Linked DNA regions of Homo sapiens: region 1 is linked to region 2. A link means that fine-mapping ties the variant in region 2 to the expression of a gene that starts in the linked region. Tissue or cell type: sigmoid colon. Region 2 holds a variant in brackets; the other region holds the start of a gene. All regions are shown on one strand. Distances are from middle to middle.

Region 1 (2,986 bases), 71 kb after region 2:
TCATCACGCCCAACTGGGGAAAGCAGCCCAGCCCCCAGGTTGCAGAGGAGATGTTTTGGCCAGTCACCTTCCGTGATTGATTCCAACTCTGCAGAGGGGAAAACCTGCAGAGGGCCTGGCTCTGGTCATCCACAGAAGGCAAGGTGGGGATTACGGACTGTTTGCGGGAGAGAAAAAGCAGACTTTGCAGATTTTGTAGATTACCCCACACACAAAACAAAATAAAACAAAACATCTAGCTCTCCCTTGAGAGAAGGGGAAGAAACAAGAGCTTAGTGACCTTTATTTGGGCCAAGAATGCTTTGTCTCAAGGATCCAGATACATACCCAGGTGGCTGGAGGAATACTATCAGCTGTCTGCCTGGGATGAGGAATACCAGTCAGCCCCTAAAAATTGCTTGTTTTAGTAGCCCATTTTTCCCAGCTCTTTTCCTCTTTCCCTTTTGTTCTGCTCTAAAATAAATAAACTCTCCGCTTGCTAAACTCTTAGCTCACAGGGAGGGAATCAGACTTGTATACTGGTTGCCCGGACTTTGGGTGTGTGCTGGAAGGAGGGAAGGGCTCCTGCCAATGACAGGTGCTACGCAGGTCTCAGCCTTCTGGTTTACTTGGGATGGGGGGTATTCGCTGCGCAACCCCTCCCCCAACTGGCATTCAGTGGCTCCAGAACAGCATAGCCCACAAAAGAAATCGCTCTTGCCCAGCTGCTCCTTCCGAGCTGCAAAGTTGTTGAGAACGGAGGGTCCAGGTGGGGATAGGGGCTAAGGGGGTGGGACCAGAAACTGAGAAGGAAAAAAGGGGAGAGGTCCTCGCAATCCCATGGGAGTGCGCTCCTCATCACCCGTTTGCTTCACTTACCATCTCACTGTAGGCATCCTTGCTGAGCCTGGGGGTCAGCTTGATAGTCCCCATGAAAACAAAGAAGAGTCCCAGGGCCACTGAGAGGGCCACAATAGTTACGGTTCTGGGGGATGCCATGGGGTCGCCAAGGCAGGTCCCAACTAATCCTTCTGATTTGCGCACCCGCTCTGTCCAAGGTGCAGGCAGTTAGCACAGGGAGAGCTGGGGGGACGCTGCGGAGGCAGCAGGCAGCTAGAATGACAAAGGGAGAGGAGGGAGCTCGAGAGAAAAATTGAGAGATCGAGATTCAACCACTCTCACTACAACAAACGCTGGGTCCTAATGCCCTACGTGTGCTCACAGGCCAAAAGGACAGTCTCGAAGTTAAATGAAGCCCTAAAGGAAAGACGGAAACTTCAAATCTTAAATGGGGAGAAGGGAGGTTATGTATGAGTTCAGTCACCAAGTGACCCCAGGAATGAGGAATTAGGGAAGACAGGCTTTGCTGCCACCTTCCCACCGGGCTCACTTTTCATCTCCCCCTCCCACTTATCATCCTTCAGTTATTCACTCCCTTTTTCCATCTCTTCCTTTGTGTCCCCCTTTCCTTTTCCTAAATCAAAATATTAGCCCTCAGAGAGTTGTTTCTGAAGTTCGTAACACTCAAGGATAAAACTGCAAATTTGTCAGCCTTCAATGCTGCCAAAGAAGGCTTCCTCTTTCTCTTGCTCAGAAATCTTTAATGACTCTCATAGCCAGTGGTTAACTCCAGTTTTAAATTTGGAATTCAAGGCCCTCCACATTTTGACCCCTGTCTCTCTTTGGAGATTTAGTTTTCAATGGCTCCCACTGCCACACGCCACCACTCATCTATCTACTCACGGCCTCACACAACCTACGCCTTACCACCTCCTCTACCTTTAACTCCCTATCTTTTGACCCCGCCCCCCACCATCACTCTTCATTAGCATTAAACCTTTTCTTTAATGTCACCTCCTCTATAAAGCCTTTCCTGATCCATTGTCAGTTAGATATGATTTCTCCCTCCTCCAATTTTCTATAACAATAACCAATAATTGTCAACTGTTTACTAGATGCTAGACGCTGCCCTCTACTTGTATTAACTAATTTAATCTTTACAGCAACACTATGGACTAGGTATGAGTCCCCATGCTATGAATGGGCACATTGAGGGGCTGGGAAGGTAGGTAACTTGCCCAGGAGTATACAGCTAGTAAGTGGAGAGCCAGGCCTCAAACCTAGGCAGTCATTTCTAGGGCCCAGGCTCTTAACAATTGCTCTGCTGCCTCTCCTGTAATATTTTTCACTATTAGTGTGGTACTTAAAGTTGTTTAGCACTGTAAATGCTCACGCACACACACACAGAGTTTTGTTTTGTTTAGAGACAAAGTCTCACTCAAGTGATCCTCCATCTCAGCCTCCGGAGTAGCTGGGATCACAGGCACATGCCGCCATGCCTGGCTAATTTTTTTATTTTTTGTGGAGTCAGAGCCTTGTGATGTTGTCCAGGCTGATTTCTAACTCCTGGATTCAAGGGATCCTTCCGCCTCGGCCTCCCAGAGTGTTGCGATTACAGGCATGAGCCACGGAGCCCAGCCCTACACGATTTTTTTTTTTTTTGAGACCCTGCAGAGGGTCTCCCTCTGCAACCTCAACCTCGTGGGCTCAAGTGAGAGGCTCTCTCTTGTAGCTGGGACTACAAGTCTCTCAAGTAGCTGGGACTACAGGCACGTGTCACCACACCCGGGTAATTTATTTTTTATTTTCTGTAGACATGGGGCTACCTTATGTCAACCAGGCTGGTCTTGAACTCCTGGGCTCCAGCGATCCTCCTGCCTTGGCCTGCCAAAGCATTGGGATTACAGGCATGAGCCACCATGCTCAGCCCTAAACAATCATTTTTAATGATTGTATAAAACTTTAGCATCACTTGAATGTACTATAGTTCTCATTCATTTTGCATCCTATTGCTAGATATTGATGTTGTTTCCATGGTTTTTACTTTTACAAATAAAAATGTGATGCATGGCCAGGCGTGGTGGCTCACGCCTATAATCTCAGCAATTTGGGAGGCCGAGGCAGGCAGATCACCTGAAGTCAGGAGTTCAAGACCAGCCTGACCAGC
Region 2 (2,500 bases):
TGCAGGGGGAAAAAGACCTGCAAACATTTAAAATTTCATCTAGTAGCCTCATATTAGTAGTAACATTAATATTATTAATTTGACACAGGTTATTGTATATTGTATGATAAATCAAGTTATTATGAAGGTAAGAAAAGAGAAAAAGACAAGAAATATCAGAAAATCACTATAATGTCTCTGAAATTCTTCTACGTAGTTAAAAAATATAATTCTTATTCAAATATTCTAATCAATCAATATGGTTTCAGAGGCTTATGTATTATTTTCCTCAGCATCTAGTCCTTGACTACATTTCAAAACCTCATCTCCTATCATGTTATAGTCTAGCCCAGTGGCTCTCAACTCTTGTTGTATATCAGAACTATTTAAAAGGTGGGTCCTGAATGTCACCCTAGAGTTATTAAATCGGAGTCTCAGCATGGGAGCAGCCAAGGATGTACACTTTGAAAAAGCACCACTGGCCGGGCGCGGTGGCTCATGCCTATAATCTCAGCACTTTGGGAGGCCGAGGCAGGCAGATCACCTGAGGTCAGGAGTTCAAGACCACCCTGGCCAACATGGCAAAACCCTGTCTCTACTAAAAATATAAAAATTAGCCAGGCGTGGTGGTGGGCACTTGTAATCCCAGCTATTCGGGAGGCTGAGGCAGGAGAATTGCTTGATCTTGGGAGGCAGAGGTTGCAGTGAGCCAAGATCGCACCACTGCACTCTAGCCTGGGCGACAGAGCGAGACTCTATCTCAAAAAAAAAAAAAAAAAGAAGAAGCACCACTGACAATTCTGCTGCTCAGCCAGTGTAGAATCACTGCTCTAGCCCTACAATTCTGCCTCATGTTCCTCAAACATGACAGGCTCTAACACAGAGTTCAGCCAACCACGGCCCAAAGCCCAAACTCTAGCTCAACACCTGTTTTGTAAATAAATTTTTTACTGGAATACAACTATAGCCATCTGTTTATGCTTTGTCTACAGCTGCTTTCATGCTACAATGATAAAGTTGAGTACTCTTGACACAGACCA[C/T]GTGGCCTGTAAAATCTAAAATATTTACAATCTGGCCCTCTACAAGAAAAGTCTGCTGACTTCTGTTCTATCTTTGCTCTGCATCTTTGTACTTTTCCTCAAACTCTGCTCCTATCTTGACAAGCTCATGTTCGTGCTTCAAAATTCCAATCAGCATCATTTCTGCAAATCCTGAACTTAGCGCCCCTTTATATTTTTTCATCATCCTCTATACTTTCCCCTATTACATCACTTATTATTGTTTTTTCTAAGATGTCTGTTTAATGACTGCCTCCCTGACTAGATGTTAAGCTCTCTGAGGACAACACTCAGAGTGTCTTATTCACTGTAGTGCCTGGTTCATTGTATACATATATTAAAATTTATTCAATGAATATCTCCCCCACCCTGCACACTTTTTTTTCATTTTGTTAGATTTCTCAATGTTCCCGTCTGTTAAGGGAATCCTGAGTCCAAATTCTTTCAGGGTATTTGTAATTCCACCCTGTTGTCTCATCCATGCATTTCAGATACCACCATTTGAGTTCTTCTCCATGTCACACACACATAATGTTGAAAGTGACAGGGCTGAGAATGAAGTCCTGAAAGGACACACACAAACATAAACCCTCCTCCACCTGCCTGCATATTGATATCAATCCATTAAATCAGCAGTCTTTGACTAAGACTCTAATTGTACTATTAACTAACCTACATATTCTATCTTGTCTAGAAGGATTTTATGAGAGCTTCCACATCTATGAAGCGTTTCCTTACATGGCACCACCTCTACCCAGGCAGGACTGGACTAATCACTCCCCCATCTTTCTTACAACTGAACCTTTTCTCATTTTGCCACACTGTATTATAGTAATTTGTTTACAAGTCTGTCTCTGTTACAAGCTCAAGCTCTCTTAGAGGACAGAAACTTACTTAAATTAACTGGAATCCCTGAGCCTAGCACAATGCCCAAAATTTAGTTGTTACTTAAAAAAAATTACTAAACACACGTCTTACAATTCAGACACATTAAATTTATGGCACTTCCTATTTCTGCCACCACAGTATTAAGATACAAAATCTAAAAATTCTTTAAATACCCTTACCTGTAGCAAAAAGGAAACAGCGTAACTCAAGAAAGAAGGATGATGGACTACATTTAAACTGTTTTTATATTCAGCCACTCCAGTTTTTTCTAGGATTTCAGGGTCAATATATATTCCTTTCCCAAAGGGTTTGGACGTCCACAGGCAACCAACCATTGATGTCAAATAGTGATTAAATTCTTGATAAGTCTTGCTGCTGAAATTGAACTCTGATTTTGTCTAATGGGAAAGAAATAAAAAATTGTCACTATCACCTATTCTCCCTTTCCTTCTTACTCCCATCAGGTCATATATATCTAGACTTAATTTTTAAACAACAGTGATTTAACACAGAGCTTTCTCATTCATACCTTTTGTACCAACTCATTTTTCTTTGCGGCAGTCAAATTTTTACGA

Alleles and levels. Positions count from the first base shown, and alleles are read on the strand shown. Sizes are in standard deviations (SD) of each study's normalised expression.
As copies of T replace C in region 2, the expression in sigmoid colon of the gene that starts at base 1,102 in region 1 goes up (small effect, 0.22 SD a copy in GTEx).

The links. PIP is the estimated chance that this variant, and not a neighbour inherited with it, causes the effect.
Region 1: TMEM35A starts here. The variant in region 2 is the best candidate, but not a certain one, in a credible set for the expression of TMEM35A in sigmoid colon (GTEx, PIP 0.61).

Annotation. Positions count from the first base shown.
Region 1 is chrX:101,076,995-101,079,980 of GRCh38, reverse strand. TMEM35A (transmembrane protein 35A) reads right to left here and starts at 1,102. Exons shown (of 2, transcript NM_021637.3): 1 at 859-1,102. The coding sequence starts at 978.
Region 2 is chrX:101,147,766-101,150,265 of GRCh38, reverse strand. It overlaps CENPI (centromere protein I), which reads right to left. Exons shown (of 22, transcript NM_001386188.2): 19 at 2,455-2,500; 20 at 2,105-2,323. Among named protein-coding and RNA genes, the nearest start is that of CENPI, 51 kb to the right of the region's middle. The variant C/T (reference allele first, on the strand shown) is at 1,020.